Linked DNA regions of Homo sapiens: region 2 is linked to region 1. The links come from fine-mapping of genetic effects on gene expression. A gene starts in region 1. The other region holds a variant in brackets. All regions are shown on one strand. Distances are between the middles of the regions. Region 1 holds the start of GALE (UDP-galactose-4-epimerase). Region 2 holds the start of CNR2 (cannabinoid receptor 2).

Evidence for each region. PIP is the estimated chance that this variant, and not a neighbour inherited with it, causes the effect.
Region 2: its variant is fine-mapped to the expression of GALE in whole blood (TOPMed, PIP 0.99).

Annotation. Positions count from the first base shown.
Region 1 is chr1:23,795,818-23,804,058 of GRCh38, forward strand. It overlaps GALE (UDP-galactose-4-epimerase), which reads right to left and starts at 4,937. Exons shown (of 12, transcript NM_001008216.2): 1 at 4,895-4,937; 2 at 3,549-3,619; 3 at 3,070-3,195; 4 at 2,798-2,913; 5 at 2,300-2,413; 6 at 1,878-2,054; 7 at 1,217-1,330; 8 at 1,059-1,125; 9 at 880-965; 10 at 692-769; 11 at 334-448; 12 at 1-190. The coding sequence starts at 3,190. The coding sequence ends at 132. It overlaps HMGCL (3-hydroxy-3-methylglutaryl-CoA lyase), which reads right to left. Exons shown (of 9, transcript NM_000191.3): 9 at 6,068-6,747. The coding sequence ends at 6,646. RefSeq lists silencers at 4,348-4,447, 4,498-4,977, 5,138-5,347.
Region 2 is chr1:23,911,269-23,927,656 of GRCh38, forward strand. CNR2 (cannabinoid receptor 2) reads right to left here and starts at 2,094. Exons shown (of 2, transcript NM_001841.3): 1 at 1,978-2,094. RefSeq lists enhancers at 963-1,132, 1,906-2,420, 5,773-5,822. The variant G/A (reference allele first, on the strand shown) is at 8,120.

The sequences.
Region 1 (8,241 bases):
GCGGGCCCAGCTGGGGTTTGAGGTAGGGGAGGCCTTGGCTTGGCCCCAGCAGCTCCAGGGCCCTGAGTTCCTGCCAGAGGCTGGAGAGCAGGCAGCTGCTGCTTTTCCTGGTCCTTGGTAGGGGAGGGTCCTCAGGCTTGCGTGCCAAAGCCTGAAGGATTCTGCTTCTGCCAGCGCCAGAGATCCTCACCTGCAACACGGCGAGGTGTGTGCTCAGGGCCCACGGTGGAATGCAGAGCCTCCCCCACCCCACAGCCCGCCCTGGGTGGGCATGCCCAGATCTGATTTAGCCCCTCCCTGGCCCCTAACTGCAGGGGTCAGGCCAGCACTCACACATCCTGTCCAGCCCTAAGGCTGCTGTCCACCCCAGCTCCTCTTGGGCCAGGCTGGGGTTGGCGTAACAGGCTGCCACATCACCTTCCCGCCGTGCCACCACCTTGTACGGGATCTGCAAGACAGGAGGTAGTTGGAGCTTAGCTGAGCCGGCCCTGGCCCAGCTGCTGGCCAGGTCTTTAAGAAGCAGAAGTGCAGAGCAGCGGCTGGCCCGCAGGCACCGGGTGCTAGGCAGGCTGAGGAGACTGGGCAGTGCCAGGTACCCTCCAGAGAGGTGAGTGGGAAGGGCCAAAGCTGCTCTGTTGCTGAGAGCTGGGTGGGGTGAGGTGGGTGAGGTGGGTGGGGCGGGGGGGCCTACCTTCTTCCCAGAGGCCTTCTCCATAGCCTGGACCATCTGCAGCACTGAATAGCCTGTGCCCGTGCCCAGGTTGTAGATCTGGCCCACGGAGAACAGGGTTTATGGAGCGGGCTGGACTGACCACGCCTCTGGGCCGCTCTGCCTGGATCTGGTCCCTCCCCTCCCTCACTTCTCCCTTCTCTTCCTACCCGGCAGCCACACTGTTCTTTCAGCTTCCTTAAGGCTGCAATGTGGCCCTTGGCCAGATCCACGACATGGATGTAATCCCGGACACCTGCAGAGAAGGGAGTGTGTTGGATGGGGAGTCTGTTCCCCCTGACTCTCCTTCCTGGCTCCCACTCCTAGGTCCCCCTGGTCCTAGGCTCACCTGTGCCATCCTCTGTGTCATAGTCATTGCCAAAGACATTCAGGGCCTCCCGTCGCCCGATCGCCACCTGGAGGTGGAGATCAGGTCAGTTCGTCCCAGATCCCAGGCACCAGCTTTAACCCCAGGGCCACTCCTCTGTCCCTTCCCTTTTGCCTTACCTGGGAGACATAAGGCATGAGGTTGTTGGGTATGCCCTGGGGATCCTCACCAATGCAGCCAGAGGCATGGGCACCTGTGGGGTTGAAATAGCGCAGCAGCACTGCGTTCCAAGTCTGTGGGATGTGGGTCAGGTGGTGAGGCCAGAGGCACAGGCAGCGTGTCCCAGCTGAACCCAGAGCCCTCCTCATGCCTATTCTGTTTTTTTGAGATGGAGTCTCACTATGGCCCAGGCTGGAGTGTAGTGGCCTGATTTGGCTCACTTCAACCTCTGCCTTCCAGGTTCAAGCAATTCTTGTGCCTCAGCCTCCCGAATAGCTGGGACCACAGGCACACACCACCATGGCCGGCTAATGTTTGTATTTTTAGTAGAGATGGGGGTTTTACCATGTTGTCCAGGCTGGTCTTGAACTCCTGACCTCAGGTGATCTGCCCACCTGGGCCTCCCAAAGTGCTGAGATTACAGGTATGAGCCACTGCGCCCGGCCAGTTGTCTATTTATTATCTTTAGAAACAAGCAGGGGATGGGGCCCTCCACTGCAACTGCCTGAGCCTTAGCTTCCTCCTTAGTGGGGGTGTTCGGAATCCCACCCCTGGGCTCAGGGTGGGCCCTGAGGAGTCCATCGATCAGTGGAGCCAGGGCACTGTCAAGGGGGCCCTCACCTTGTCTGCCTGGCACAGGTCCCGGATCATTTCCTCGATGAAGAACTTGGACTTGCCGTAAGGGTTGGTACAACCACCCGTGGGGTGGGCCTCATCAAGGGGCAGGTACTGGGGGTTCCCGTACACAGTGGCTGAGCTGCTGAACACCAGGTTCTTCACCCCGTGGGCCTTCATGATCTGGCCGTGGAGAGATGGCATCAGTGACCTCTGCCTCACACATTACTCCCACCCTGTTACTCCTCCACAGGAGAATGGGGCTGAGGTGATGAGCACTCTCATTTACAGATGGGGAAACTGAGACTGGGAGGTAAAGACATGAGTCCAGGATGATACAGCTTGGGCTCTGTGTTTGGCACTGCCTGCCAGGCTGGGGTCCAGCTGGACACCCTCCTAGTGTCTGTGCCCTGTCCCATGCCTCTCACCTCCAGAAGCTGGATGGTCCCGGTCAGGTTAACTCTGTAATAATCCAGAGGCTTCTGCACCGACTCGCCCACGGCCTTGAGCCCCGCAAAGTGGATGACCGCCATAAAGCTGTACTGCAGGGGTGACATGGCCAGAGGTTGCTCTACTGGTTTTAGTCCTTGGCAATGCCCTCAGCCTGCCTGCCTGCACTCACCTTTTTTTTTTTTTTTGACAGTCTCGCTCTGTTGTCCAGGCTGGAGTACAGTGGTGCCATCTCAGCTCACCGCAACCTCCACCTCCCAGGCTCAAGCCATCCTCCCATGCCAGCCTCCCGAGTAGCTGGGACCACAGGTATGGGCTACCATGCCCAGCTAATTTTTGTATTTTTCTGTAGAGATGGGGTTTCACTGTGTTGAGCAGGCTGGTCTTGAACACCTGGGCTCAAGTGATCTCCTCACCTCGGCCTTCCAAAGTGCTGGAATTACAGGCGTGAGCCACCGTGCCCAGCCTGCACCCACCTTTTTGAAGAGACGCTGTAGGGCTCCCTGGTCCAAAATGTCCATCTCCTCAAACTCCACAGAGCGGCCTGTCAGCTCCTGGACCCGCCGCAGGCTCTCAGGCAGGGAGCCCCCTCCTGGTAGGGTACATGTAGGCCACATCATCACGACATGGGGTGCTGTGTTCCCAGGGACTAGCCAGACACACATTCCCCGCCCGGTGGTGGAGGTGGAACCCAGGGTTTTGCTTCTGCCATCCCCTCAAGTAGCCCCAGCCCCACTGCCCCGCTCACCACGGAAGGCATTATGGAAGTTATCGATGACCACAGGCAAGTAGCCAGCCTCCAGCAGCTCCAGCACCGTGTGGCTGCCAATGTAGCCAGCCCCACCTGTTACCAGCACCTTCTCTGCCATGGCACCTGGCCCAGGATACAGAGTCTCAGAGGTGGCTGAGGCTGCCTGCTCAGAGCTTCCTTCCCACTGGAATCCTGCCCCCTAAGCTCGCTTTGGAAGGAGGCGGCAGTGTGCCCTAGGTACCAGACTGGCTCAGAAGTCAGCCCTGGGGCAAGTCTGGGTACCATCACTTTCTGGCCTTAGGCTTTGGAAATTAATTAGCCTCTTGGCCTCAGTTTCTATCTCTGTAAAACAGAGCTAATAATTGTATAAACTTCATGAGGCAGCGTGAGGGTTCAGTGAGGTGATCTTAAGGGCCCGCCACAGCAGAGCTGGGGAGACCTGACACACAGGCACCTTATTTTCTAGTTCCACTTGCCTTGGAGTTGGAAAAGATGGAATCTGAGGATCCACACTTCTTTGTCCAAGGTGACTGAGGACTGGAGAGTCCTGGGCAGAAGGAAAATGGCAGCACGATTGGGACTCCAGGGTCGCAGGAAGGGGTTCTGTCTGCTCAGACCCAGGCTTGTCCAATGCCTCCGCCTTCGCTAGGTGTAAACTGGCTCCTGGGCGCAGTGACTAATACCTCCTGCTCTAGGCGGCCCCCACCCCCTTTCCCTCAAGGGTCAGCTGGGAGGAAGCAGGAAATAGATCACATGGCCTCAAGGGTGAGGTCCTTTGCCAGGCAGGCTGAGGCCAGCTCAGGGGCAACCACACCGTGGTTGGTCCTGGAGGGGGCCCCACCCCAACCCCCGCTCAGCCTCTGCCCATGCCAGGGCCAGCCCGGTCACTCCTGGCTCAGAGTTAGGAATCCCGCCCAACTTAGGCTACTCTGGGTGGGCCGTGTAGACGTGGACTTGGCCAGGTGCGCACCTCCACCCTGAACAAACTCTGCGGGTAGTACGGGGAGGAAGCCCCAGACACTGAGGCCTTTCATTCCCAGCGACCGGGCCCGCTGCCGCCTTCCTCCACGCTGCCTCTATCCCCTTCTGGGCTCACGCAGCTCCAACCCACTTGACCAAGAGCCCTCTGCGTGCCAGGCTCCGTACCAGGCACTTTTGCATGATTTTCCTGAATTCCCCCAGCATCTCGGTGAGACAGGTGTTATCACTGGCACTTTACAGATACAGATACTAGGGCCAGAGAGGTGAAACAGTTGCCCTTCGGTCCCACAGCTGGCGACAGCGGGCTGGAATCTGGATCGCCAGGCTCGCAGCCCGGCCCTCTCCCCAGGCGGCTCGCCCTTCCCCCACCGCTGCCCGCTGGACTCTGCCCGCCGCGCCGAAGCCGCCCCCGCCCCCGCCCCGCGCCTGGCGCGGACCCCGAAAGTGGTCGCAGAGAGGCCCTGGGAAGCACGAAAGCTGGTCTGAGGCCGGCTGCGCCCCCGACAGCGGAGTGACCTTGCTCAGCCGTCGCCCACTCGGTTTTCCCAGTCTGTCTGTTGGAGGGAAGGGGAGCTAGGCCGTGGGCATACGAGGGCGGCTGGGTCTCAGGCTGGGCTTTGGGCTGTAGCGCGGAGCGGGGCCGAGCTAGGAGTCCTCAGGCCGGCAATGAATGAACCCCGGCCGCCCCAGCCCGGGCAGCGGGGAACTGGGACAAAGGGGGCGGGCCTGCCCTGGAGGGACGCTGCCAGGAACACGACCCGCCCCTCGGAAACTCCCTCGCTCCCCGCGGACTCCCCGGCCCCTCGCGAGCCCACCCGGCCCTTCATTCCGTCTCCCGAACCTGCTCGGGTTCCCGCGCCCCACGCTTGCTGCAGAGGCACCGCCTCCTACGCCCGAGCCGCGGGCCCTTTAAGTGCTGACGGCCCACTCCGGCCCCGACCCCGCCCCTCCACGCCCCCAAGGAAACATGTCACTCGGGTTACGGCCACTACGGGGAGGGCGGGAGGACAAAAGGCCTCCGCGCTGTGACGAAGACTGCGCAGCGCGCGCCCGCGGAAGGCGGAAGTGGGCGGTGCCACCCCGCGAGAGGCGCCGCCGGCGCCAGGTCCCAGTAGCGGGTGGGTCCTTGCCGGTGCCCCGGGTCCCCGCGCTAGCTCGTCCCAACCCCTGGAAGAGGGCTGCGCTTCCGAGGGGGCAGGGGGCAGAGGGTAGGGGGCCCACGCCTCCGCCCCACTCTGACCCGCAGGTTTTCAGACTTGCCGGTGTGTGCCAAACCATGAATTCAAAATCTTGAACTACCCGATCCCACGGGACTAAGGCAGGAGGGGGTCGCAGGGGGCCTGGTGCTGGAAGTCCAGTTTGCAAATAAACCAAGGAGCTGGAGGAAGCTGTCAGGCCACACTAGCGGTTCCAGCGCTCTTGGCTCTCAGCCCCCACCTGCCGGGAAGGGTCGGTCTGCACTCTGCCTTCCACGACGGCAGGTTAGAAAATGATTGTTTGTTTACAATGAAAAGTAGTAGAGCTAGAGAATAATATGCACAAAATGTGACATCCTGCGTGATGAAACCAGAGCAAAGGAGCCCTAAATGCAGGAGCGCACAGGTGTCCGCGCAGCCGGGAATCAGCCAGCGCCTGCCCGCAGAGTCCAGGGAACCGACAGGTGAGCGCTCCCGGGCCCGGGAGCGCCAGGGAGAGGCCGGGCCACCGAGGCCCAAAGCAGCAAGTGTGTCCTCAGGGGAGCTTGTGCAATAGCCCCAGTCACAGAGGCAAAGCTCAGAAACAACCCCGTCGGGTGTTCTGGCCAGCAACTGCCGCAAGCAGCCTCCTGAGTAAGCCCAAAACCACTGATTTCCAGTCACTATGGATTTGGGGCTCAGGTGGGGAAACAGGGAGGAAATCCAAAGATTAATAAACTAGTTCATAGTCTCCATTTTCCTCTCAGAGTGCAACATGGTAAAGTATTTTACTCCCCCACGCGCATGTATACACACAGCTGCACAACCGAATGCTGGAATTATGATGTGCCATTCAACCTTTAATTACATAAGCTGTTTTCAAAAATCACATTCAGCGTGGAGATTTTCCAGAGATGCTGGAGTTGGCAGACGGCCACCACGTAGCTCTCCACTTTCCACAAATGGCCTCTGCCAGCTTGGGAAGAACCTCCATGACCTGTGTCCTGAGAAGTCAGAGAGCAAGGGCCCCACGGCCATGGCAGGGTGGAGCCGTGTAGAGGGTGGCCAGGTGGCCAGCTCGCGGATTCCATCCAGAGAGGAGACTCAAGGATCATGCTAAGTAGGGAACGGGGTTCCCACACGTCCTCAGGCATTCAACTCCTGGGCCAGGGTCCGTAACAAAGGGAGACTTCAGCCCTCAAAGCCTCTCACTCCTCAGGTCTGGGCAGGAGGTCCTTCTGCCAAGCAGCTCCTCCTGCCCTTCGCCTGCTTTCTGCCAGGAGAGACCTCTGTGTAGAGCTGGCTATGAGGTACCTGCACCATTTAACCTATTCTCATTTCCATGTCCCCATCCATGAATCATCTGTGTGTGCCCCTATTTCCACATCATCCCCAGGGCTTCAGGTGGGCAAGGGGCTCAGAGTTTACAGGTAGCCTGAGCCACTTTGGAGCTAGTTTTTCTGTTCAGGGCTTGACAGATAAAGTTTCCAGCTTCCAGAAGCTTCTGGAGATTCACACCCTTTGAGAAACAAGTTAGAGGATGCGGTAAGTCATGGTATGCCCTCAACACCAGGGAAAACATCAGCATGGACAGACAACTGTGATACTGAAAAGTAAAGGTGAAGATAAACAGGCTTTTTCCTTGACAGCGGGGCACCAGCTGCCTGTGAGCTCCTGTCTGTCTGGCACCTGGGTTATTCCTCTGACTCCCCCTCATGTAAGATGCCCAATCTCTGTCATGGTTTGTAGTGCCACTACCAGGGCACAGATCTTATCAGTCTTGTTCAGTACTCCCTCTTCAGGGCCCAGCACAGGGCCTGGCCCACAGAGGTAAAAAACTGATATTCAAGTGACAATTGTGAGGCAGAGAGGGAGGGATAAAAACACCAACTGAAAGGGCCAGACAGAAACCCTCTGTTCATACAGTAGCTCATATTTGCTGAAGTGCACTCTGTGCTCAGCTCTGTGATAAGCATTCTACATAACTTTTCTTTCTTTTTTTTTTTGGAGACAGAGTTTGCTCTTGTCGCCCAGGCTGGAGTGCAATGGCACGCTCTCAGCTCACTGCAACCTCTGCCTCCCGGGTTCAAGTGATTCTCCTGCCTCAGCCTCCCGAGTAGCTGGGGTTACAGGTGTGTGCCACCACACCCAGCTAATTTTTCTTTTCTTTTTTTTGAGAGGGAGTCTCACTGTGTCGCCAGGCTGGAGTACAGTGGCGTGATCTTGGCTCACTGCAACCTCTGACTCCTGGGTTCAAGCAATTCTCCTGCCTCAGTCTCCCGAGTAGCTGGGATTACAGGTGCGTGCCACCACACCCAGCTAATTTTTGTATTTTTAGTAGAGATGGGGTTTCACCATGTCGGCCAAGCTGGTCTCGAACTCCTGACCTCAGGTGATCTGCCCACCCTGGCCTCCCAAAGTGCTGGGATTACGGGCGTGAGCCACCGTGCCCAGCAATTTTTCTATTGTTAGTGGAGACAGTGTTTCACCATATTGGCCAGGCTGGTCTCAAACTCTTGACCTCAGGTGATCCACCCGCCTTGGCTTCCCAAAGTGCTGGGATTACAGGCGTGCGCCTGGCCCTCTACGTACGTTTTCTTACTTAATCCTCACAATGGCTCCATGAGATGGATGGCATTATTATTCCCATTTCTTAGGTTCAGAGAGATGAAATAATTTGTCTGAGGTCTCATAGCCTGGGAGTGGCAGGAGTAGGCTTTAAACCCAGTTCCATCTGATCTTTAAGCACAGATGCTATTCTGCTTCCGTCCCGCCACTGAGGGCCCTGGTGGACTCTGGCGGATCCCTGGTGAGCTGTCTAACGCTACTGTCCTCATTTTACAGAGAACAAAACAAAGCCAAGAGAGAACTGACTCATTTCAGGTCATGAACCTGACCCTTCCCAGGGCCCCTTCCATGTTCCTGGTGTCTCCTAGGACTGAACTGTCAAAGTCACCCTGACACTCCAGCCTTCTTATGCCCATGCGTGTGGCCTCACTCAACCCTACTCTCA
Region 2 (16,388 bases), 120 kb after region 1:
CTGGGAAGATGGCAGGACCTCTGGGGGAAGTCACTGGGTGATATATCCTGGATGTCAAAATGAGACACAGTGGTTTCAGGTCTTACAAAGAATCTGGACTCCAGGCATGCCAGGGAAGTGGGCAAGGCTGGACTTCAGACAATCAAGTCCATTTGGGCAATGGGCATCCATCGTAGGAGGACCCAGGAGCCTCCCTCACGCTTATGTTCTGTGTGTCCTCTGGGTCAATGTGCATGGGTGGGGATGGGAGTGAGGGAAGCTCAGTGCACTTGGAGATTAAATTTCCTCCTAGCCCAGTAGGATGAGGCTCAGGGTCCTATTGAATGTGACTTCAACTGAATAAAGAAAAGATCAATTTATGCACACCCGAGGGTGTGCAGTAAGAGTGACTGGTACTGTAAAATGAGGTGGGAAGAGAGGGGGCTGGCGCTGGAGGGCTCTGCTTGGCTGAGCCAGGCTGCCATTTTCCCGTCTTCACTGCCTTATCCTGGCCTTAGCCGGCCAAAGGGTAAAGGATATGCTTCACCTGCCCAGCGCAGGTTAGGGGGTCACTCTGGTAAGCCACAAGGTGGTTACAGAGCTGGGGCCAGGATTATTGGGACTCCACCTCCTGAGCTCTCCCTGAACTTCTCCCCAGCCTCCATCCTGGTTTTCATGCTGCCAACGTGTCTACTTGCCACTCATTCCAGGGAAAAGCAGCCAGGCCTCATTTTATCCTCATCTCAGATCCACAGCAAGAGCAGATGGGGTGAAGATCAAACTCTCCACCACAGCCATTCCCGAGCCCTGTGCTGCTGCCCGCCCTGTGCCCGCATCAGACAGTTGACTCGCAACAAGCCTGTGAGTGACCTTCTCAGGCCCATGTTTCTCAGAAGAGGAAGCTGAGCAGGAAAGAAATGGAGTGATTTGCATTAGGCCATCGAGCTACCAGTGGCAGAGCTGGGATTCAGACCTGGACGCTGACCCCAGGGCACACTGGAAAATACTGCTCTTCCCTCCGCTGAGTGGAACTTACACCAAAGCAGACCCCTGGCCTCCTGAGTCCAGTGTGCCCCTAACACTACCTTGTGGTCTCCCCATCTATAAAATGAGAGCGCAGGACTCACCTGGTCATCTCAAAGGCCTCTGCCAGCCCCTGTCATTTCCTGGCCCCCATCTACTGTTGCAGTCCACACCTCGTAAGGCAGGATAGCCTGGTGGCTGAAGGGTGGGCCGCGAAGCCGGAGTGCCTAGGCTCAAGCCAATGCTCTCATTCAATGCCCGCATGATTTCAGGTGGGTCACCTAGCCCCCACCTATCAAGTGGACAACAGTGATAGCTCCTACTGCATACGGCTGTTGTGAGGATTAAATAAATCCAACCACTAAAGGCTCTTAGGGCAGCGCCTGGCACACAGTAAGGCCATCTCTGTGTGTGTGATTCTTGTCTCTGTAATGAAATGAAAGCCAAAGTCCTGATTCTTGGTCCTAGGAGGGGGATGCCAGCCCTGAACTTTCCTGCGACTGGTCCTCCACAACCCCAGGTGTCCTGAAATGACATCTATCCCCTGCCCCAGACAGGCCCACCTGGCTTCTTGTGTCCCTGGAGGGAAGGGATAAGGTAAGAATACAGGTTTTGGCCAGGTGCAGTGGCTCATGCCTGTAATCCCAGCACTTTGGGAGGCCAAGGTGGGCAGATCACCTGAAGTCGGGAGTTCGAGACCAGCCTGGCCAACATGGTGAAACCCTGTCTCTACTAAAAATACAAAAATTAGCCAGACGCAGTAGTGCACACCTGTAATCCCAACTACACGGGAGGCTGAGGCAGGAGAATCGCTTGAACCTGTGAGGCTGCACTGAGCCGAGATTGTGCCACTGTACTTTAGCCTGGTCAACAGAGCAAAACTCCGTCTCAAAAACAAACAAACAAACAAAAAAGAATACAGGTGTTGGGGAATGAGGAAGAAGCCTAAAATAAACAACAAAAAAAGCTACTCACGGTTGTGTTGTGGGTGGCTGGGCACTGGGAGCTGCCGGGGGCTGAGGAGTCCCAGTTGTTTTCTGTCCTCTCCCAGGACCTGGCCGTGGGTGCCACTCAGAGCACCTGTTGAGTGCCACCCCAAGCCAGCTTTCTCTTGCTTTTGTACTTTCTCACAGATGAGTGAGTGTGAGGAGGTCTGGCCTTCCGTGCCTGTTACCACTTCCCCTCCAGGTCCCTGGTGCCACAATGCTCTTGCCCCTGCGGTTGAGTTATCTCTTACAACGAACTCTGGCCAGGGTGGGGCATGGGCCTAGACCCTGGAGTCAAGGGACTTGGGTTCTAATACAGCCTCGTTAAAATGTTGATTCACTTAACTTCCCCAAAGGCAAGTTTCTTTATCTGTAAAATGGGGATAATGCACCAACATTACAGTAGATCACCTAAAAGGACATGCCATTCCAATGCCTCTTCACCACTAGGCCAGAGCTTTGAAATGCAAATGCCTACAGGCAGATTAACATAATGGGTGATGGATCCTGGTGTGGGGCAATAGGGAGTGGTAGGGACTGTGGGTAATAGGGGGAACACAGGACCCAAGTGGAAAAGCTTGGCTGGAGCTGAGAGGTACCTGACCCTCTCTACTGGCCCAGCTGAGAGGTATCTGCCCCACACCCCAGACCCTGATCTGGGCCAGTAGAGAGGGGCAGGTACCTCTTAGTTCCAGCCAAGCTTTTCTGCTTGGGAGTATAGGCAAATTGTCAGATATTCCAAGCATTTGGAAGTTGTGCTGTATTTTTCAAGAGATACCAGAAATCTTGACTTATGTGATAGCTTCCTGTGTGTGTGTGTGTGTGTGTGTTTTGTTTTTTGTTTGTTTGTTTTTGTTTTGAGACCAAGTCTCGCTCTATTGCCCAGGCTGGAGTGCAATGGCGCAATCTCGGTTCACTGCAACCTCTGCCTCCTGGGTTCAAGCAACTCTCCTGCCTCAGCCTCCTGAGTAGCTGGGACTACAGGTGCACACAACCACCTCCAGCTAATTTGTAGTTTTAGTAGAGACAGGGTTTTGCCATGTTGACCATGCTGGTCTTGAACTCCTGACCTCAAGTGATCCACCCACCTTGGCCTCCTAAAGTGCTAGGATTACAGGGTGAGTCACCACGCCCAGCCACTTCCTGTTTATTTTATTTTACTTTATTTTATTTTATTTTAATTTTTTGAGGCAGGGTCTCGCTCTGTTGCCCAGGCTGGAGTACAGCGGCACGATCATAGTTCACTGCAGCCTCAAATTCCTGGGTTCCAGTGATCCTCCCATCTCAGCCTTCCAGGTAGCCGGCAGAACAGGCATGTGCCACCACACCTGGCTATTTTTTTTTTTTAATTTTTTTGTATAGATGGGGGTCTCACTATGTTGCCTAGCTTGGTTTTGAACTCCTGGGCTCAAGCAAATCCTCCCGCCTCAGTCTCCAAAAGTGTTGGGATTACAGGCATGAGCCACCATGCTCAGCCAGTTGCCAATTTTAGAATGTAAAGCCCAAAGTCACACCTTTAAAAAATGCTATGTGAGTCAAACTAAACATTATCTTCAGTTTATATTTATTAGGGAGTATGTCCCTAATGTCCAGTCCTGGGCTGGATGTACTCAGGTATGGTATCTGATATAGTTCCAAGTGTCCTCACACCCACTCTCAGATAAAATATTTAATGAGACGCCATTATATTCTAAGGATACAGAGATGATTATGGCAAAGTTTTTGCCCTTGTAAACTCATGGCCTATGATTATCTCATCAGATCCTCTCACTAACTGCTCCCCACACCCCAGACCCTGATCTGGGCCAATGAAGAAAGATTTTGCCCCTGAGGTAGAGTTGCAAGATTCTTCAAGTAAAAAATGTTACAGGCATGAGCCACCCCACCTGGCCCAATGAATTATATTCTTGAAGATGATGGAGAGTAGATTTTAAGTGTTCTCACCACAAAAATAAGTATGTGAGGTAATGCAACAATAGTTGAGACATTCAGGCACTAAAAATTACTTGTTGCTTATGTGCGATTAGAATGCTCAGCCTAGCGTGGTGGCTCACGCCTGTTATCCCAGCACTTTGGGAGGCAGAGGCAGATGGACTGCCTGAGATCAAGAGTTCAAGACCACCCTGGGCAACATGGTGAAACCTCATCTCTACTAAAATACAAAAAATTAGCTGGGTGTGGTGGTGCGTAGTTGTAGTCCCAGCTACTCAGGAGGCTGAGGCATGAGAAATGCTTGAGCCACAGAGGCGGAGGTTGCAGGGAGCCGAGATCGCCTTACTGCACTCCAGCTTGGGCTCCAGAGTGAGACTCTGTCTCAAAAAAAAAAAAAAAAGAAAAAAGAAAAAGAAAAAAAAGAATGTAACCAGGCATTCTCTGTCTTATCTGGCAACACCACCCAGAGGGGACACTTGGCAATATCTGGAGACATTTTTGGTTGTCACAACCTGGTGGAGGAATTCTACTGACATCTGCTAGGGAGAGGCCAGGAATGCTGCTAACCATTCTGCAATGCACAGGACAGCCCTACAGCAAGGAATTATCCAGCTCAAGATGCTAACTTGCGAACCCTGGTCTGGACCTAGTCCTGGCTCCTTCAGCGCAAAGCCATTGCTGGGAAGGGCCTTTAATTTGATCATTCATCCCTTTGGGAAATGGAACAGTAACAGCCTCCAGCCCTTGCATCTCTCCCAAGAGCAAGACATTGGCAGTGAGGAATGGGACAGAGAGCCCCAGGTGCCAAGAAAGAGGAAAAGAAGACCAGAAGGAGCTGGGGAGTGGGGCCCGCCTGCAGCCTACATCAGACTCCTATCTGGGCTGGAATTGGAGACCCAGGGGTGAGCTGGAAGAGATCTAGCAGATGCTTCCACAATCCTGAATCCTAGACCTCTGGCCTTGAGAAAGCCCCACATGGGGAAGAAGGGTGAGGCTGTCCCCAAACGCCTGGTCCTCCATTGCAGCCCAAAGCATGTAATTGGAGGTGGAAGGCATGAATGAGTGAAGGAATGAATGAACGAAGGAAGAAAGAAAGGAAGTTACTGAAAGTTCAAGTGGAAGGAACGCTGGGAAGCGGAGTTTTTGTGTGGTCTCTGCCATTGCCTGGCTGACCAACAAGTTGCTTCCTGTATCTGTTCTCAATTTCTCCATTCCTAAAATGAGGAAGTTGGAGATAACAGGTGCCCCTGAAACGCCTGAGTGCATGGAAGTCACCCACAGGGCCTGTTAAAACACAGATTGGGGCCGGGTGAGGAGGCTCATGCCCGTAATCCCAGCATTCTGGGAGGCTGAGGCGGGAGGAGGTCTTGCCTGAACTCAGGAGTTTGAGGTTATAGTGAGCTCTGATTATGCTACTGCACTCCAGGCTGGGTGACAGAGAGAGAACCTTGACTTGAAAAACAAAACCCCAAAACACAGATTGCTGGGCCCCACTCCCAGAGATTCTGATTCAGTATTCTGGGATGGGGCCCAAGAATCTGCATTTCTAACTAATTCCCAGGGGAAGCAGATGCTGTCGGTCCTTGGACTCCCTATGGGCAGCACTGGACAAGAGAATCAATAAGGAAGCTCCATGATCTCTCAGTCCCCTGGGCAGGGCTGATGGGGCCCACAGGGGAAGTCTGTTCTCTTTTTGCCCTGGGAGGGCCAGGAGCAATTGTAGGTGAGGGTTTAGGAGGCGGTTTTCTCAGCTCCTTGGGTAGAGCTGGCCTCAGCAGCCCTTGTACTGTGAGATGCCGCCATCTACAGGATGGATCTACCCCATGCTGGGGCCGAGTGCTGTCATATTGAGGGTCTGATCTGAGGAGGAACATTCCCGAGAGGTATACTTTTCCTGTCAGGCCACAGGGAAGCAGTCTTTGCACTGTCTGAACCAACTGACCCTAAGATGGTTCAAAGCCAGGCATGGTGGCTCATGTCCGTAATCCCAGGCCTGTGGGAGACCGAGGAGGAAGGAAGGATTGCTTGAGCCCAGGAGTTCGAGACCAGCCCAGGCAACATAGCGAGACCCTGTCTCTACAAAAAATAAAAAATTAGCTGGGCATGGTGATGTATGCCTGTACTCACAGCTACTCAGGAGGCTGAGGCAGGAGGGTCATGTGAGCCCAGGAGGTCAAGGCTGCAATGAGCCATGATCTGCACCACTGCACTCCAGCTTGGGCGATGGAGGAAAAGAAAAAAAAAAAAGATTATTCAGTTTTCAGTGTAAATGTTGGTCCCTGAATTAACTTGGGAAAATAAAACAAAATGTGTCTGCAATCATATGGGATAACATATTTTCACCAAAACTGTTGTTATGTTTTGCCTTTTAAACCCTGCTATACAGTATTCCTTTTAAAATTAATTAATTTTTTAGAATTGTCAAAAATTGTATACATTTAACATGTACAATGTGATGTTTTGTAATATACATATACATTGTAGAATGGCTAAATTGAACCAATTAGCATATGCATTACCTCATATACTTATTTTTGTGGTGAGAACACTTAAAATCTACTCTCCATCCGCCGGGCACGGTGGTTTATGCCTGTAATCCCAGCACTCTGGGAGGCCGAGGCGGGCGGATCACGAGGTCAGGAGATCGAGACCATCCTGGCTAACATGGTGAAACCCTGTCTCTACTAAAAAATACAAAAATTAGCCGGGCTTGGTGGTGGGCGCCTGTAGTCCCAGCTACTCGGGAGGCTGTGGCAGGAGAATGGCAGGAACCTGGGAGGCGGAGCTTGCGGTGAGCCAAGATTGTGCCACTGCACTCCAGCCTGGGCGACAGAGCGAGACTCTGTCTCAAAAATAAATAAATAAATAAAATAAAATCTACTTTCCATCATTTTCAAGAATATAATCCACCGGGCCAAGTGAGGTGGGGTGGCTCATGCCTGTAATCCCAACACTTTGGGAGGCCAAGGCTGGCAGATCACTTGAGGTCAGGAGTTCAAGACCAGCCCGGCCAACATAATGAAACCTGTCTCTACTAAAAGATAGAAAAATTAGTCAGGTGTGGTGGTGGGCGCCTGTAATCCCAGCTACTCAGGAGGCTGAGGCAGGAGAATCTCTTGAACCTGGGAAGCAGAGGTTGCAGTGAGCCGAGATTGTGCCACTGCACTCCAGCCTTGGTGACAGAGCAAGACTCTGTCTCAAAAAAAAAAAAAAGGAAATCCATCAGACCCAAATTTTGCCCATTTGTCAGGCCTTTTTTCCCCCAATTATGAAAGTAAACAGAAGCAGGCCGGGTGCGGTGGCTCACACCTGTAATCCCAGCACTTTGGGAGGCCGAGGCAGGCAGATCAGTTGAGGCCAGGAGTTCAAGACCAGCCTGGCCAACATGGTGAAACCCTGTCTCTAATAAAAGTACAAAAATTAGCCAGGCATGGTGGCGGGCACCTATAATCCCAGGTACTCAAGAGGCTGAGGCAGGAGAATTGCTTGAACCCGTGGGGCAGAGGTTGCGGTGAGCCGAGATCGTGCCACTTCGCTCCAGCCTGGGCAATAGAGCGAAACTCCGTCTTGGAAAAAAAGAAAAAAAGAAAGAAAAGAAAAGAAAGAAAGTAAACAGAAGCAACCAACAATGTGCCACGTCAAAAAGGAAGCAAAGTAAGCCTTCTAACATGTGACCATTTTGTAAATTAGAAAACGTCTATATATACAAGAGTATAACATATTTCACAAGGACACATTTAAAGTTAAGGATACTTATCCACCCAGAGGTACCCCAGAGGAGAGTTACTTTTGGTGCTGCGGGAAATGGGAGGAAACGGGATAAAAGAAATTCAGTCCAGCCAGGTGCCGTGGCTCACGCCTGTAATCCCAGACTTTGGGAGGCTGAGGCGGGCAGTTCACAAGGCCAAGAAATTGAGACCATCCTGGTCAACATGGTGAAACCTTGTCTCTACTAAAAATACAAAAATTAGCCAGGCGTGGTGGCACGCACCTGTAGTCTCAGCTACTTAGGAGGTTGAGGCAGGAGAATTGCTTGAACCCAGGAGGCAGAGGCTGCAGTGAACTGAGATCGCGTCACTGCACTCCAGCCTGGCGACAGAGCAAGACTCCGTCAAAATAAATAAATAAGTAAATAAAAATTCAATCCCTTGATGAACCAATTCCACAAGAGAGACCTTGGACAGAATCCATGACAGTGC[G/A]TCATAGACGGCAGGGGGCTGCTTAAGGCAATAAACCCACCAAAGGTCTCCCTGAAAAACCCAACATTCTTATTTTGGACATTTTGGAAAACTTCTTTCTATTTTTTTTTTCTCCCCCTAACCTAAATGCCCATCAATGGTATGGAAAACTTATTTATTTATTTATTTATTTATTTATTTTTTAAGACGGAGTCTCGCTCTGTCGCCCAGGCTGGAGTGCAGTGGCGCGATCTCTCACTGCAAGCTCCACCTCCCGGGTTCACGCCATTCTCCTGCCTCAGTCTCCCGAGTAGCTGGGACTACAGGCGCCCGCCACCACACCCGGCTAATTTTTTGTATTTTTAGTAGAGACGAGGTTTCACCGTGTTAGCCAGGATGGTCTCGATCTCCTGGCCTCGTGATCCGCCCACCTCGGCCTCCCAAAGTGCTGGGATTACAGGCGTGAGCCACCGCGCCCGGCTGGAAAACTTTTTAAAAATAGAAGGAAGAAAACAAAAATGCTTCTTGATCTCACCACAGGGAGGTAGATGCTGTTAACGTTTAGATGTGTTTCTTTCTGGGCTGCCACAATTCCAGGCCAGAGGTATTGAGGAACCCAGGCTGGGCCATGGGGGCAGAGGAGAGAACACAGTGGAAGAGATGAATTAGAGGGTTGATTAATAGAACCAGAGTTTGGAGCCAAACTTGGGGCTTCCAGTGTCTGAAAAAATGCCAGCGCCCAGCACGTGACTATTTCTTTAGAGCTGCCCTTTGCCTTCCTGCGCAGCCCCAGCCCAGCCCCTGCCCAGCCCCAGCAGTAAACAGTCAATTCTATAAATAGCCATGTGGGCAGATGCCAAGGCAGATCTGAGCCTACCAGGCTGCGGGACCTGAGAGCATTTAGTGATTGTCTCGACTCTCACCATAGGGCTCAGCCAGCAGTACAAGCACAGGCTGATAACGTTCCCCTCTCCAAAAGAGGACTGTGGCAGGCAGCTTTGGTAGCAGAAGATTATATTTGGATTTTCCAGCTTCCATGAGAAGCAACATAGCACAAGGATTGAGAGTCTGGGCTCTGAACCAGAGGGACCTGGGCCTCTGTTCCCAGTTTGCCACTGAATAGCTGTGTGACTTAATTTTCTTGAATTTCAGTTTTTCCATCTAGTAATACCACCTAGCAATTACATGCAAAAAAAAAAAAAAAAGAAAAGAAAAAGAAAAAATGGAAAACACCATATAAATATCAGGGGTTGGTATAAACAAGGTAATAAGATAAATATAGATGCTGTCACTGACAAACACTCTTTTTGAGCAAACTTTAGTTAGGTTCCTCTGTCTTTTCAATTAGAACTTGAACTTGGCTCTGTCCTGTCTTTGGTTGGCCCAGCCCAGTCCTAGCAAAAAATCCTGCTAAGTCATCCCCCTACCCTGGATATCTGATAAAGTTCTTCATCGCCCACCTTTGATGTGTATGTCCTGGGCCTGCCTTTAGCAAGAATCTTGTTAGGTCTGTTTAACAAGAATCTCCATATTCTTGACGTCTCCTCTTAGTAATGTTAAAATTTATAGGAGGACATTGATTTGAACTGAACTTCCTGCACGAGGCCCAATAGAGCAGACCGAAATGGAGTTCCTCGTGCCGAAGCCCATGCTACCAAGCCAAAACTAAGTTGTTTATCTGACCTTCTGAGAAACCAGGAGAGAGCCAGATAAACACCAAACCTCCAAACAAGCCAATTTTGGCAGGCATGATAACAAAGTGCTCTCTGCTTTTTAAAAACTTTTTTTTGAAACGAAGCCTTGCTCTGTTACTCAGCTGGAGTGCAGTGGCATGATCTCAGTTCACTGCAACCTCCACCTTTTGCAAGCGATTCTCCTGCCTCAGCCTCTTGAGTAGCTGGGACTGTAGGCATGCACCACCGTGTCTGGCTAATTTTTTTTTTTTTTTTTTGTATTTTTAGTAGAGACAGCGTTTCACCATGTTGGCCAGGCTGGTCTCGAACTCCTGACCTCAAGCAATAGGCCTGCCTCAGCCTCCCAAAGTGCTGGGATAACAGGCATGAGTCACTGCGCCTGGCCTGCTTTTTAGAAACTTTAAGGCCGGGTGTGGTGGCTCACGCTTATAATCCCAGCACTTTGGGAGGCCGAGGAGGGCAGATCACGGGTCAGGAGATTGAGACCAGCCTGGCAACATGGTGAAACCCCGTCTCTACTAAAAGTACAAAAATTAGCTGGGTGTGTTGGCGTGTGCCTGTAATCCCAGCTACTCGGGAGGCTGAGGCAGGAGAATCGCTTGAACCTGGGAGGCAGAGGTTGTAGTGAGCTGAGATCGCGCCACTGCACTCTAGCCTGGTGGTAGAGCAAGACTCTGTCAAAAAAAAAAAAAAAAAAAAAAAACCTTTAAATTTTTATTTTTTATTTTTTATAGAGATGAGGTCTTACCATGTTGGCCAGGCTGGTCTCGAACTCCTGGCCTCAAGCGATCCTCCCATCCCAGTCTCCCAATGCACTAGGATGACAGATATGAGCCACCACACCTGGCCCATGTTCCCTCTGCTTTAACCTTTACTAGGAAATGAATCCCCCTTTTGTTCTCTGTTTCTGCTTTCCCCACCCCTTTTCTGTCTATAAAACTAAAACCTTCTGCTTGGCTCATGGGAACACTTATTACATTTTACAGAATGAGGTGTTGCTCTATTCTAGAATCACAAATAAATGCCAATTAAGATCTTTAAACTAAATTTGTTGTAATTTTATTTATTTATTTATTTTGAGATGGAGTGTTTCAGTTGCCCAGGCTGGAGTGCAGTGGCACAATCTCGGCTCACTGCAACCTCCGCCTCCTGGACTCAGGCGATTCTCCTGCTTCAGCCCCACAAGTAGCTGGGATTACAGGCATGCGCCACCACTCCCAGCTAATTTTGTATTTTTAGTAGAGACGGGTTTTACCGTGTTGGCCAGCCTGGTCTCAAACTCCTGACCTCAGGTGATCTGCTCGCCTCGGCCTCCCAAAATGCTGGGATTACACACCAGGCGTGAGCCACCACACTTGGCCAATTTGTTGTAATTTAGTCTTTTGATAGTAAATTTCCACCCACAGACCCCCCCAGTCACTGAGCTCCTTGGCTATAAATTCCCACTTATCTGTGTTGTATTTGGAGTTGCGTCTGATTCCCCGCAATCCGTTGCAACACCCCTACTGCAATAGTCTTAAAGTTATCTTCACCATTTTAACAAGTGTCGGGATAATTTTCCTTTCACATCTCCAATCTGAACAAAAAATATAAAAGTTAACCCAGGAGAAAACCCATGTCAGGCAGTAAAATCCCACACACCCATCATAAATTCCATACTATCCCGGTACCTGGCACAAGTGTCCAACCCATGATTGGACAAATACTCAGAGAGTATTTGTTGAATGAATAATTGCTGAGTGTCCCTGGCATGGCAAAAATAATGGAAGCCATAGAGTCTGGGAGGTGGGTCTGATCTGTTCCTTTACCTCTGGAAGGTGGGATGGTGTGGGGAGACAGGACACTGGGAGTCAGAAACCCCAGTGTCCAATCCCAGCCCCATTCTAACTCTCTATAAGCCTCAGCCCCGTCATCTGTGAAATGAACAGGCTGGGTTTGGTAAGAAGTTAAAACTTTTTTTTTTCTTACTGCAATCCATGAAAGATTCATTTTATATCATGACTCAATACACATATAAGGCCGGGAGCAGTGGCTCACACCTGTAATCCCAGCACTTGGGGAGGCCGAGGTGGGAGGATCACCAGAAGTCAGGATTTCAAGACCAGCCTAGCCAACATGGAGAAACCCTGTCTCTACTAAAAATACAAAAATTAGCCGGGTGTGGTGGTGCATGCCTGTAGTGCCAGCTACTCGGAAGGCTGAGGCAGGAGAATTGCTTGAAACTGGGAGGTGGAGGTTGCTATGAGCTGAGATCACACCACTGCACTCCAGCCTGGATGACAGAGCAAGACTCCATCTCAAAAACAAACAAACAAACAACAACATAAAAACAAAAAACAAAAACAGAAACACATATAATACATACTATATGTAAAATTGCAACTTCAGTTTCGTGAAACCAATAATTCTTACTATACGGGATACACTCTGATATTTTCCTTTTTATTTTATTCAGTTCTAATTAATTTTATTTTATTTAACTATGCCATTTGTAGCCAAAGAAATAATTTTTATTACTCACCAATGGATCACAAGCTGAAAATACTTATTAGAGAGCCTCTTCTCTAGGTCTGGAATTCTAATCTGCCCACATATTTTCACCTCTACACCTTTGATTCTCTTAGCCTGCAATGCCCTCTGACTCTTGCTTATCAATTTGGTCTTGACTCCTTCTTCCAGGCCCAACATAAGTCCTTCTTCCTCCAGGAAGTCTTCCCAGCTTGTCACAAGTCCCATTTCTCGTTCAGTTTTTGTTTTGTTTCCTTAAATTGCTGTACCTGTCAATTAGCCAGCAAGTATTTATTTGTCTGTTTATGTGTCTAGAACTGTGCTTGGAGAATGAGTCAAAAAGACATAAGATGCATTCTGGGGCCCAGGTGCTGAGTTGGAGTGATCAGCAGGACACAAAGGACAGGGGACATGAGAAGGTAGCCCATTAGGGGGTGCAACCTCTTGGAGGAAGAGGGACAGGGAAAAACCTGTCTTCCACTTCCCACTCCCATCCTTGCAAGGGTTCAGAGACGTGGAGGGAGGGCAAAGAGAGTTAGGGCTAAGGACAAAACAGAGCCCAAAGGGGCCAGGGGTGGCAGGAAGAGCTGTTTTCTGTACAAAGAGAAGTTAGAGTCCAGGGCCCCAACACAGGGGTTAAAACAAATGGGTCAGAAGGAGGCGTTTCATGCCGCTGGACTGGCTGGGTCACTGGCGACTGAACAACCGCAGCAAAGTCTGCAGCTGCAGTTTCCACTCTGAGCAGATGCCAAAGCATCCAACTGGCTGGGCACTCCCGACTCCAGTTGGCTGGAGAAGCTGTGGATAGGTTTGAACTTCCAGGAAAAGTTGACTGAACGACTTCATGGTTTTATATCACAGGCTGAATAGTGACAAAGATTCCTTGACCAAACTCTACTCAGGCCTTGAACTTTTCTTTTTTCTTTTTCTTTTCTTTCTTCTTTCTTTCTTTTTTTTTGGTGGAGTTTCGATCTTGTTGCCCAGGCTGGAGTGCAATGGCGCACAATCTTAGCTCATCACAACCTCCACCTCCCGGGTTCAAGCGATTCCCCTGCCTCAGCCTCCTGAGTAGCTGGGATTACAGGTATGTGCCACCACACCCGACTAATTTTGTATTTTTCATAGAGAGGGGGTTTCTCCATGTTGCTCAGGCTGGTCTCGAACTCCTGACCTTGGAAGATCCTCCCGCTTCGGCCTCCCAAAGTGCTGGGATCACAGGCGAGAGCCGCCGTGCCCGGCCTAGCCTTGAACTTTTCAACGAGACCTTGACTTCTGTGTTCATCTCTGCATTGGTCAATGTCAGCAAGAATCCTGTGAAGTTGATTTAGCTAGAATCTCCTGTCCTCCATGTCTGATCACCCTCAATATCTGATAGGGTCCTTCATCCTCCACCACCTCCCAGGTGACATCTGATGATCCTGGCTTGCCTTCAGCCAGGATGTTAGGTTGGCTTAGCCAGAAGCCCCCCTCCCCTTACTTCTGATGTATTCTCTTAGTAATTTTTCATCCGGTGATCCCCACCCTGCTCCTTGGCTATAAATTTCCACTTGCTGATTCTGTATGTGGACTTGAGTCCCCCCAACTGCAAAACCCCATTGAAGTGGTCTTTATACCTGTCATGATGCGCCCCCCCCCCTTGAATAAACGCTTCCTTACCATCTTGAATGAGTGTCACTAATAATTTTGTCTTTAACAACAGCTTGCAGGACCCATAAAAGGGTATAGCCAAGAGTTAATAACCGGGGATTCGGGAGATCCTTGGATGGATGAGGAAGCAACAGGGGAGGAAAGACCAGATCAGAGACCAAGTTCTAGTTCTGGCACTGCCTCATCCTGCCATGTGGCCTTGAACAAGTGTGAGCCTCAGATTCTTCTCCTACAAAAGCAGAAGATGGGAGAGACCATCCTGCTCTGACTTTCCATGTGGGACTGAATTAGACATAACTCCTGCCCTCAACGTGTTTACAGTCCAGTTGGGAAGGTGAAGCATTGGCTGAACTGAGTCATAACACTTAGCCCCAGGTGGCTGGTTCTGGTGTATAGTCAATAGTTAGTAAATGTCTACTGAATAAATGAAAGGAAAACACTAATAAACCTCCTCACTGAACCCTCACTGTATACCAGACACAGAGTTAAACTTTTCACAAATATTTTCTTATTTAACCCTCACAACACTTACCAGTAAGGATTATATATCTATATTGTGTTACATATTCAAATATAACATAATATTCCCCAGGAAGTAGGTAAGAGGAGCTCTAGGTGTTTTGGGTAAGACCAAGTTCACCATCTTTTGTACTCCGGAGTGTAATCTTCACATGGTCCTATAGGCCAGGAGGCAAATCTTCTCCCACCTCACTCCAGAATTCCTGTTCTGTGACTCATTTTATTTTTAAAAATTTTATTTATTTATTTATTTATTTATTTGAGATGGAGTCTCGCTCTGTCACCCGGGCTGGAGTGCAGTGGCACTATCTTGGCTTACTGCAGCCTCCGTCTCCTGGGTTCAAACGATTTTCCTGCCTCAGCCTCCCGAGTAGCTGGGATTATAGGCTGGGATTACACCAAACCCAACTAATTTTTGTATTTTTAGTAGAGATGGGGTTTTGCCATGTTGGCCAGGCTGGTCTCGAACTCCTGACCTCAGGTGATCCACCGGTCTTGGCCTCCCAAAGTGCTGGGATTACAGTGCTGGGATTACAGCGTGAGCCACCGCGCCTGGCCCCCTGACTCATTTAGTATTTCTCCAAAGCATTTATCATCACATGACACCTACTGTATATTTCTTTTCTTTTCTTTTTTTTTTTTTTTTGAGACAGTCTCGCTCTGTCCCCCAGGCTGGAGTGCAGTGGCGCAATCTCGGCTCACTGCAAGCTCCGCCTCCCGGGTTCACACTATTCTCCTGCCTCAGCCTCTGGAGTAACTGGGACTACAGGTGCATGCCATCACGCCCGGCTAACTTTTTGTATTTTTAATAGAGACAGGGTTTCACAGTGTTAGCCAGGATGGTCTCGATCTCCTGACCTTGTGATCCGCTGGCCTTGGCCTCCCAAAGTGCTGGGATTATAGGCATGAGTCACCGTGCCCAGCCAACACCTGTTGTATATTTCATTTGTTCATTTTTCTGTTCCTCCTTCCTAAAATATAAACTTCATAACAGCAGGGATCTATATCTATTTTGGTCACTTCTACGTCCCCTGTGTCTAGAACAGTGTTTGGTACATCCCCAAAATTAGGTGTTCAACATCCATTAGGTGCTCAACTAATATTTGTTGAATGAATAAATGAATAGACGAATGAAGTAGGTGAGTCTCAGAAAAGTTAAACAAAGCAACTTATCCAATATTATCCAGCCATCAAGTGGCACAGATGGAATTCAAACCTAGAATTGGGACAGGCTTGGAGTCAATCCATTTAACCACTAAACCATAATTGTCTCATTCATGCAACAAATATTCACTGAGATCCTAATCCCTGAAGGACACTGTTCTAGGCACTGGGGATATAGCGGGGATGAAAACAGACAAAATCCTTGCCCTTGTGGTGCTTGCTTCTTAGTATTGTCCCATATGAAAAGAGATGTAGTTTTGTAAGATTGGGATGCAAGGCCCATGTGCCAACATACCTGGTTATGTATCAGTGGCAGACATAACTAATGGATCAAGACCCTTAATCCTGCCCAGCCCAGATTCTGCTCATGATCTTTCTCAACTCAGCACTCCATGCTGACACTCAGCTGACTGGAGTTGGCACCAAAATAACCCCTGTTGGTCATGTGTGAATAGGTGTTGTCTCCTCAATAAGGGCATGAATCCCAACCCTGCACTGTGTGGCCAGAACCCCTGGGACCACAAGTGGAAGTTCCATAGCTGGCACAGGACTTGGGGTTCCTTCCCACTGGCCCCAGACAGTGTTTCCCTCGTTCCTTTCCCCAGCCCCTCTGACCAGTCCTGGGGGCATGAAGAGCACAGAGCTTAGCCAAGGTACAAACTCAAAAGCCTTGAAGGCAGCCAGGTTATGCTGATCCTGGGAGGGCAGGCTGGTTAAGGAACGGGCATAGGCTCTGGAATGGATAGTTATGGGTTCAA